2 separate regions of the Homo sapiens genome follow, and region 1 is linked to region 2. Evidence: fine-mapped expression QTL. Tissue or cell type: lymphoblastoid cells. Region 2 holds a variant in brackets; the other region holds the start of a gene. All regions are shown on one strand. Distances are from middle to middle. Region 1 holds the start of LINC03124 (long intergenic non-protein coding RNA 3124). Region 2 overlaps LINC03124 (long intergenic non-protein coding RNA 3124).

Region 1 (5,383 bases), 51 kb before region 2:
TGGGACATAAAATAAGGTATACCTATAGTTTTGTCCCAGAACTGTGTAAACCGGCATGCTGCCTGCCACAGTACAGTCCTCCCCCTGCATCAGGAGCTCAGATGGGGGAAGCCAGCAGGGCTGGAGGCCTGGGAGTCACAGATGCTTGGAGGGGAGAGAAAAGCACCACAGAGAGCCAGGCAGGACCTGCCTACAAGTCACATTTTTAGGGGTCTAGTGGTCTGGGCAGGCTGGGAGATGCTCTCTAAAGGGAAGGCAAGAAATATTGCCCCACATCTCCCACCACCAAACAGAAAGTGCAGGTGGTCAGCCCCAGGGCTCACCTGCCCTTTGCCAGGGTCATGAGCTAGGCCCAGCCTGCACCCTCCACACAACCATCAAGGGGACTTCCTGTCAGGCTGGGACAACTGCACCGGGCCCTGATGCCCTGGGAAGAACAGGGTTGCATTTAACAGAAACAGCTAAACCTGAAGGGATGAGCTTGCCTTTCCCCAGGGCCATGGGATGGTTTATAGAAAGTTCTACCCATCAGGACGAGACCTCACATGACACCATCAGAGGAATTGATACCATGCCATAGAGGGAGGAAGAGGGCGCATGCCATAGGTCCACTGGTCACAGCACACACATGCTCCTGGGAGCTTCAGACCCAGCAGTTTGGCTCAGGTGCCAGGTCAGGATGTGGGAGGACACAGTGTCTGGGTGAATCTGTCACCCTTGCTAGCTGCCTTGTCCCACCAGGTAGAAGATGCGGCAATGGGAGCACAGCAGTAGGAAGCCCAGTGTCCCCCAACCTTCCACCTCACACCCAGGACCTCTGAGGTGCATCTATATCCTGCACATCTAGGCTCTGAAAAGCAGGAGGTCCTGGTTTCCACAGCTGTGGGGCTTCTAGACAGGACAAGGCCAAATTCTCTGAAAAAACAAGCTCTGGGTGCTGCTTTGTCCTCAGGCTGCTCCTCCATGGGACCTGCGGGCAGAAAAATGTGTACCACCTGGACCGTGGTTTCAGCAGAAGCAGGGTTATGCTGCCTGGGGCAGGAGGGGCTCTACACAAGCGCCTCTCAATACACAGCATTTGATGGTACGTGGACAAGTGTGGGAGCCCTAGACCAAGGACTCCGTGGTGAGCAAGACTCAGGACCCCTTAGGGGTGAGGGCCTGGGTTACACCACCAGGGGGTCACCCGGACCCTCAGCAGAAGGTGGAGGGGGTGGTGATCATTACCTTTGTGACCCTGCAATGGGTGGCAGCCACAGGACATAGGGTTCATTGAACGCACCTTGTGTAACTATTGCCCAGGAAAAGGCCCAGAATTTAATAAAGATGAGGCCCCTGGCAGTGAAGTGCTGGATGAGGCGCACCCCCTGGGGCATACCTGAACCTCCCCCAGGGCCTCGGCTGTGAGCTTTGATTATAGACACACCTGTGCCACAGCCCCTTCAGACTGCTCCCTTCACCTCTGAAAAACCAGACAGGATGCTTCTGTTCCTGGAAATGTGAATGCCCTTCGTGTGTTTTTTACTTTGACTATAAACTCATCTGCAACCAAAATATAGACTCCCACACAATAATAACGGGAGACTTTAACACCCTAATGTCAACATTAGACAGATCAACGAGACAGAAAGTTAACAAGGATATCCAGGAATTGAACTCAGCTCTGCACCAAGCAGACCTAATAGACATCTACAGAACTCTCCACCCCAAATCAACAGAATCTACATTCTTCTTAGCACCGCACAGCACTTATTCCAAAATTGACCACACAGTTGGAAGTAAAGCACTCCTCAGCAAATGTAAAAGAACAGAAATTATAACAAACTGTCTCTCAGACCACAGTGCAATCAAACTAGAACTCAGGATTAAGAAACTCACTCAAAACCACTCAACTACATGGAAACTGAACAACCTGCTCCTGAATGACTACTGGGTATATAACAAAATGAAGGCAGAAATAAAGATGTTCTTAGAAACCAATGAGAACAAAGACACAACATACCAGAATCTCTGAGACACATTTAAAGCAGTGTGTAGAGGGAAATTTATAGCACTAAATGCCCACAAGAGAAAGCAGGAAAGATCTAAAATTGACACCCTAACATCATAATGAAAAGAACTAGAGAAGCAACAGCAAACACATTCAAAAGCTAGCAGAAGGCAAGAAATAAGTAAGATCAGAGCAGAACTGAAGGAAATAGAGACACAAAAAACCCTTCAAAAAAATCAATGAATCCAGGAGCTGGTTTTTTGAAAAGATCAACAAAATTGATAGACCGCTAGCAAGACTCATAAAGAAGAAAAGAGAGAAGAATCAAATAGACGCAATAAAAAATGATAAAGGGGATATCACCACTGATCCCACAGAAATACAAGCTACCATCAGAGAATACTACAAACACCTCTACACAAGTACACTAGAAAATCTAGAAGGAAATGGATAAATTCCTGGACACATACACCCTCCCAAGACTAAACCAGGAAGAAGCTGAATCTCTGAATAGACCAATAACAGGCTCTGAAATTGAGGAAATAATTAATAGCCTCTCCCTGGGAATGGGCGGGCCTGGGTCCAGTCCACAGGGCCCCTCGTGGGCCCTGATGAAGGAAAGAGTTGAGATGGGGGCAGCGCTGGACCCCAGGGCCCCTGCCTGCCTCCTGGAGAGCCCGGTGACCCAGGCAGCCCTGGTGAGGCTGTGGGTGCCTGGGCCATAGCGAGGCCCGCGAGCTCCCACAGGACAGATGCGGACAGTGAGGCCGGGGAGGCCCTGCTGCCCTCCGAACTGTCCCTCCAGCCCCCAGCTTTCTGTGGTTCTCTGGGCCCCCTCTGCAGAGGGGCAGGGGAGCCCACCCTGGATCCTGAGACGCCAAGCTTGAGGGACCCCCAGAGCTCTAGCGAGGCTGCTTCCTTTGCGGATGGTGAAGCTGAGGTCCAGAGGAGGGCAGGGGCAGGTCCTGGGCGCTCCCTAGGCAAAGGGAGCCGATCTCCGGGAGGCGGTCACAGGGAGCGCTCCTGCGACTTCTAGGGCCCGAAAGCTGGGGAGGATGAGAGACCAGGGGCCTTTCGTCGTCCCCTGGGCTGGGCAGAGGCTCAGCCTGTGCCGCAACCCTAAGCGGCTTCTGGCAAGTCCGAGCCGCGGTCCCTTTAAGAGGGGGTGGAGCTTCAACCTGGCACTAGGGATGCTGCTAGCGTGCGTGTCCCTACGGAGCTGAGACTGCAGTTCCTGCGACGCCCCTGCAGCAGCAGCAGCGTGGTCAGAGCGAGCTTCTGAGCGGTGGTGGGTTCCATGTGATGGTGGAGTAGGAGACAGGTCTCCGCGGTCAGTGGCGGGGGCGTGGACCCCACCGGGAACCCTCCCTGCTCCTTCCCTGCCTCTCCCTGTTTTCGTGCCCGCACTTCTTCGTGGGCATCTGGGCCCGAGTCCTCCGCTTGGGGGCGGTTGTGCGGTCCTGGCTACTGCAGCGTCCGCACCCCGGCCGGGAAGGCTATGCCAATGTCCGACCCGCGTCCAGCGTATAGGAGCGCCCTGGCCCACAGCTGGCGGTAAAACGCGGGACCTGGGTCCCTCGGAGCCCCAGGGGCCTCTGAGCTGGAGTCTAGGATTATTTTTGATGCCTCAGCACCTTTAAAAAGAGACCTCGCTAGAGCAGGGGGCATCTGTATTTTCAGTTCTTTGAGGAGTCTCCAGCTATTTAGCTGTTTTCCATGGTGTGTATCCTAATTTTCATTTCCACCTACAGTGTATGAGTTTCCCTTTCTCCAAAACCACACCCGCATTCCTACTATTTTTGGTTTGGGGTTTGTTTTGTTTTTGTTTTTGTTTTGAGACGGAGTCTTGCTCTGTCTTACAGGCTGGAGTGCAGTGGCGCCATCTCGGCCGACTGCAACCGCTGCCTGGTTTTAAGCAAGTCTCCTGTCTCAGCCTCCAGAGTAGCTGGGACTACAGGCGCCGCCACCATGCCCAGCTCATTTTTGTATTTTTAGTAGAGATGGGGTTTCACGATATTGGTCAGGCTGGTCTCAAACTCCTGACCTCAGGTGACCCACCTGCCTCAGCCTCGCAAAGTGCAGAGATTACAGGCATGAGACACCGTTCCCAGCCCCTCCTATTTTTTTAAAAAAATCAAGGAATATTCGATAAGTGTGAGATTATCTGTGTGTGGTTTTGAATTACAGTTTTCTAATGAATAGTTGATTTTGAGGACCTTATCTCTTATTTGTTGTTCGATTTTATGGCTGTGCAGAATTGTCTGTTCAGGTTCTTTGCAAAATATTAGATTGGATGCTTTTGCTACTTTGTAGTGTTTTTTGTGTACATATTAGATGACAACTCCTCGTGAATTACAAGATTGCCTGAAATTTTTGCCTAATCTATAGGATGCTTTTTTAATTGGAAAGTAGTTTTCTTTGATGTGCAGAAACTTTTCATGTTGATGTAGTCAACATGATATTTATTTTTGCGTTTCATGCATGTAATTTTCGTCACCCATATAAGAAAATAATATGTCAGTGACAAAGCATTTAATTGTCAATGAGGTTTTTCTTCCAGGGTGTTTATTTTCCTCTTTGCAAAGGTGAGCAGAGATTCAAGTGACCCAAAATATATGCTCATCCTGTGTTTTAGTTAAAAACATTTTGTAGTTTATGGTCTTTTGTTTTGCCTTCAATTTGGGGGAGTGGGTGTTCATTTTCATACATCGTGTAAAATAAGGTCCTATTTCTCGCTTCTGCATCTGGATATCATTTTTGTCAAAGGTATTCATTCTCTGCCTTCCACATTGCAGTGTTCTTTATCAAAGTCAGTTGATTGTGTCCATATTTGTGTTGATCATGTTTTTGTCCTCCCTGTTTTTGTCCATAGTTTATGCAAGTATCATATATCAGCTGTATAACTACAACTTGGCAGTGTAATTTGATATTAAGGATTGTGGGTCTTCACTTTGTATTTCTCAGGATTCCTTTAGATATTCATTGCTTTTGTGGTTCCCTGTGATTTTTAGCAATACGTATTTATTTCTGTTAACTTTTTTTCACAACATAAAGGTCCATAATTAGGGGTACATTTTCATACATACAGATTGGGTAATGATCAAATCAGGGTACTTAGGATCTCTATTTGCTCATCCAGGTTTTTTTTTTTTTTGTGGGGAGAACATTCAAAATTCTCCCTTCTTACTCTAGAAAAATATGATATTGTTAACTCCAGTCACCAGGCTGAGGAGGAGAACCTCAGATTTGTTCCTTTAATGTTAAGATAACTTTGTTTCCATAATCAATCCTTCCCCATTCCCCCTCTATCTCCCAAACTCTGGTAACCAATATTGTGCTTTTTACTTCATTAAGATAAACATCTTAAGATTTCACATGAGTGGTATCATGCAG
Region 2 (5,383 bases):
TTTTTTATCTTCAATTTATTTCCATATCTTCAATTTGTAATATATATCTTGTGGATTCTTAATATGGAACTTTATTTTTTTCTTATTTCTGGTTGTGTCCTTCTTTTATAAATTTCTTTTTGAGTCTCAAACTAAATGCAGACTTCACTATATATACATAATATCACTATGCACAGGTAGTTTCCAAGTTTATTTTTATTTTCTTTAGTCAATGTATATCAGGTCAAAAGTTAGGCTTTTTTTTAACCATTGAAAAACTCACTTGTGTCTGTTATCTGTAGAGTACAGTTTGATGTATCAAGGAAAGAGAAAAGTTACTTTTCTTATAAATAAGTACTATGGTCTTAACTGAGATCAGTTCATTAATTCATCAGTGCATTCATTTAATTTTATCATATATTATTGTTACAACCAAAAGCAAACCTTGATAAACTCCAAATCTGATTAATTTTTCTGTATTAATGATCTTAAGTTAATGGTACCCTTACCCATCTAAGTGAAAATTGGAATCCATCTTAGACTCCCCTGTTATATGTTAACACTTCCTATCATTTCTGTTAGTTAATTCCCATCCTCATTTTAAAATTACTAATGCCTTTTTCTTAGTTCAGCAGCTTATGGTGTCTTACCCAAACCTTTGCAGTGGTTTTTCAGTTTTATCTTTGTCCACACTTGCCTACCTATCTCACCTCCAAATTGCTGCCAGCTATTTTCCTTAACTATGAAGCTGATCGTTTAACTTTCCTGCTCAAAATTATTTAGTTATACCACGTTATGCAAAAAAACAAAGGCCAGTTTCCTAAAGGTCTGTTTACAATCTGGTCTTCGCCTGTTTTTTTTTTTTTTTTTTTTTTTTTTTTTCCTGCTAAACCTACACACTGAAGAAAGTTTTGTCAAGCATCTGTGCTGTATCATATTAAGATTCCACCTGGAATGTTTTTTTACCCCTGTCTACTGAACAATTCCTTTTCATCCTTCAAGCATAGTCTTATGGTTCATTTTATTCTTTTAGTGAATACTTCTATGATAGTCTTTCTTCTCTATTTGTCTTTCTTTCCCTGTTACTTATAGTAATTACTTTTATTACTCTCAAATCTGTATTTTAGATATTCTCTATTGTTCTCATAACTGTTTCTCTAGTGAAACTTCCTTGAGTGTGTATATGTTGTCTGTCTTTATATATCCATGATCCAAGGTTGGGACAGGGTACTTGGCATAAAGTAGGCTCTTAGTACATTTTTTGAATGAATGAAATACTCTGAAAGGTAAATAATAATCAATTTTAGCATAAATGAACCTCATCATGAGGACATAGTAGATAAAATCATAATAGTAGTTTAGTTAATGGTGTGTTATTTATGGGTGCTGAATACATTGGGAACTTTTCTTCGTAGTTTTCATGTATTATCTGTTTATAATATTCACAAGGAATCCACAAAGTAGGCATTATTATTCCCCTTTTTCAGGGAGATGAAAATAGATTCGGAGATGCTAAGTAATTTGCCAAAAGCCATAGAGCTAGTAATTTGGGAACCCAATTCATGTCTTTAGGAAGTAAAATTTATCCTGCCCAGTACATTAAGTTATCTGAAGTAGTAAGAACTCAGTAAGTATTATTTGAATGAGTACTTTTTTTATCGTAAGTACACCAATAAGTATAATAATATATCTAGTATTTATCTTAAAATTGTCTTTGGGCAGGAAATCTTTGCCTATATATAGGTATTTATTTGTGTCTCTTCTCTTTAGAAATGTAAAGTTATTACACATTTTATTCCAGAATATAAAGATTGTGTCTTCTGTGTTATGTAGATAGCATTCTTGTTGGATAGTTTCAAACTCAGTGAAGGTAATATGTGCAAACTAATTCTTATACATGTAAAATTCTGTAAGATTTTCCTTAAATTTATTTGAAGCTCTTTTTTATGGTTTCTTCTTGATAATTTTGTAATATTTAGAAACAATGGTTAAATGACTACTTTAAAGATTTTCTCTTCTAATTTTAATCAGGGCTAACATATATGTCAGTTTCGAATCAAGTGAAAGACTTAGTTTGCAATAAATTAATGATTTCCTGGAATGAAAAACCTTAAAAAGGATGTGCATTTTAGACAGTTAAATGTCTTGACCTTTACACTGTTGTTTTGTATTACTGACTTTTTTGAGTTCTTTAACACACTATTTTTTTTCTTTTTCTTTTTCTTTCTGTTTTTTTTTGTTTTTTGTTTTTTGTTTTTTTTTTTTTTTGAGACAGAGTCTTGCTCTGTTGCCCAGGCTGGAGTGCAGTGGTGCAATCTTGGCTCACTGCAACCTCTGCCTCCCAGGTTCAAGGGATTCTTGTGCCTCAGCCTCCCGAGTAGCTGGGATTACAGGCAGATGCCACCACGCCTGGCTAATTTTTGTATTTTTAGTAGAGACGGGATTTCACCATGTTGGCCAGGCTGGTCTCAAACTTCTGACGTCAGTTGATCTGCGCACCTTGGCCTCCCAAAGTGCTGGGATTACAGGCATGAGCCACCGTGCCCTGCCTATTTTTATTTTCTAAATTGAAATGAAAAAAATTGAATTTTGCTCAAAGTATTTTAGATACCTTGAAATGACTAATATTTTAGTGATTAAGGATTATTATAACTTTTTATTTCTCAAAATATATATGAAATAATTGAATAGTGCATTGAAGTAATCTGTAGAACAAAGTTTGTGTTTTATATTTTGGTAGGAGGGAGAAACCAGTTAATTTTCCCC[CCTTAA/C]CTTCAGAAAGCATACTTGTTCAAATGTTTATAAATCATTTGTATTTTTCTATACTTTAGAAAAAAATATTTCTATATTCTCTATTTTAGGATATTAACTCTCAAGAGACTAAAGGTTGTTTCAGAAATCAAACCATCCATATTAAAATAGATACTTAAAATGCTATTTGATAGCAGTAACTATAAAATGGGCACTTAATATGAACTCATTTATTGATTCTTAATAAACACACATTATTAAGTTATTAAATATATAATTATCACTGGATTTACTAAATCTTAATTGTGAGATTGAAACTACCTAAATCATATTATAAATGCTAAGATGTTGTTTCTTTGACAGATCTTTTCCTGACCATGTAATCCAAAGTAGAATCCTACTTTATTCTTTTTCAGTTTATACTGTTCTTTTTCTCTTCACTGTAATCACCATGATTTATAATTCTACATTTGTTTAATTGTGTCATATATATTTCTTTTATAGCTCATAACTTCTAGGAGAACTGGTTAGCCTTGGGTATCTGCAGTGCCTGGCACAATGTAAATTTTAAATGAATGAACACAAATGAATTGTATTTCCACAATTTTGAATCTTGGTATAGTGGAAAGAATATTACTCTGGAGGTCAAGGGGCTGTAGTTCTTGTCTTCTCCATGAATATTCTTTATGTGCCACTTCTACCATCTGTGAAATGAGGGATGGGAGGGGGAACTTGAGGAAGTGGTATTAGATGATCATTAATAGTCCTGTCAGCATATTATTGTAGGGTTTTATGAATATTATAATTGCATTTTAGACCATAATAACCAAACATTACATATTGATATATTTAATTTTTTTATTTAAGTGGTACATGATCAGCATTGTCCACATTTACAATCGATGGAGAAACAGTGAAATTCAGTGTTATGTTAATGGACAACTGGTATCTTATGGTGATATGGCTTGGCATGTTAACACAAATGACGTAAGTCTTTATTTTTCTCTCTGTGTTTTAATTTGTTTGAGAGTATGATCTATCATTACAAAATGAATTGAATAATAAAATAGTTTGGTAGAAACTTAAAACTTTGGAAGTTTATTCTTTTTATTAAACAAATCTTTCACTGTTAAATTTAATATAAGAAAATTGCTAAAAGACATGATTAGGGATGCAAAAACAGGAACATTTGGCCAAAGTTTTAAGTTTTTTAGATAAAAAACCGCGAATCCTGTATTCTATTTATTCCAGCATCAAGCACTAAAAAATGTGGTTTACCCCTTATTTAGATATAGAAAGAAGACCCTAAACAGAAGTGTAACATATAGTCACTATTATTAATTACATAGTGATAAATGCTATGGAGAAAATAAATTGGGGATACAGAAAGTGTAGTTGTAGGGAAGGGGGGAGCCGGATGGTCCAGAGATGATTTTAGTAGGAAGAGGTGAACAAGCAAGGTATGTGGGGAACTTCTTCTATCCAGTGGGAACAGTGAGTGTAAAGGCTTTGAGGCAGAATAGGAAAGTTCAAGGAAAAGGCAATTTGTCTGGAGCAGAGGTAGGTAGAAGCAGAATAATATTAAGAGATAAGGTTAGGCAGAAATCATTTTGGCCTTCATAAGCAAACATAAGGCCTGGGCTTTTGCATCTTACTCAGCTTAAAAATCCTTGGAAGGTTTTCAGCAGACAAGTGATGTGTGCTTATATTTTAAAAGCATCAGTCTGCCTGCAGTATTGACAATATTTTGAAGGGAAATTACAGAAGCAGGAAAATCACTTAAATGGCTTATTGCAATAAAACAAAGAGATTATATTAGTTTCTACCAGTATGTTAGCAGTGGAAGAAGTGACACAGTTGGATTCTAGATAGTGAAAAACTCGAATTAAAACCTCAAGTGTCCTTACGGTTTCTCTACTTTGGGCTTTCCATTGTCTACATTCTGGCCTGTCAGAGCCAAAGTAAAAGGTTTGTTTTAATGCTGAAAGTACCTGCAAGCTCAATAATATACAACCCTTCACGCTTACCTGGTTTTATAAGAACTTACCTCTTAAATACAATTCATTTTTCAGTTTTGTTTGCATGTCTATAGGCTTTAATCTCCCAAAGGGCAGGGATTTGCTTATCCTGTCTTGTATTCTTTTAACTAGCACTGTGTGTATGGTCCATAGGTTGTCCCCTAGATCGGGGCTTGGCAGACTACACCCTATGAACCAAATCTGACCCTCCCCCTGTTTCTGGTTTCGTGTAAGCTGGGGGCAAAGACTCTTGGCTTTTAATTTTTAAAGGTTTTTTGTTTGTTTGTTTTTTTCTTGAGATACAAACAAAATCAAAGAAGAATGGGACAGCAACCAGGTGTGGCAAGCAAAGTTTAAAATACTTTCTGTCTGTCCCTTTGTAGAAAAAGTTGCTTTTCCCTGCCATAGAAACTCATGGTTGTGCCACAACCAATTAATATTTAATGGAATGTTGTTTTCAGAATTAGAATACACAGATGAAATTCTGCTTTTTATCTTCTCTCCAGAGGAGATCTTCTCTCCAGAGTCTTTTTATTATAGAGTGGAAGAAATCCCAGTGGTCTTCTTGACTCATTCAATGATAAGACAGTATCTTGGAAAGAAAATACTTAGTTTTTTGGTTATTTATAATAGTG

Evidence for each region. PIP is the estimated chance that this variant, and not a neighbour inherited with it, causes the effect. A credible set is the group of variants that fine-mapping cannot tell apart.
Region 1: LINC03124 starts here. The variant in region 2 is the best candidate, but not a certain one, in a credible set for the expression of LINC03124 in lymphoblastoid cells (GTEx, PIP 0.58).

What each region holds. Positions count from the first base shown.
Region 1 is chr2:131,679,280-131,684,662 of GRCh38, forward strand. LINC03124 (long intergenic non-protein coding RNA 3124) reads left to right here and starts at 3,220. Exons shown (of 10, transcript NR_167889.1): 1 at 3,220-3,709. RefSeq lists an enhancer at 2,653-2,772 and a silencer at 3,143-3,192.
Region 2 is chr2:131,730,236-131,735,618 of GRCh38, forward strand. All of the region lies in intron 6 of LINC03124 (long intergenic non-protein coding RNA 3124), which reads left to right. It also overlaps the pseudogene NBEAP2. Among named protein-coding and RNA genes, the nearest start is that of LINC03124, 50 kb to the left of the region's middle. The variant CCTTAA/C (reference allele first, on the strand shown) is at 2,746.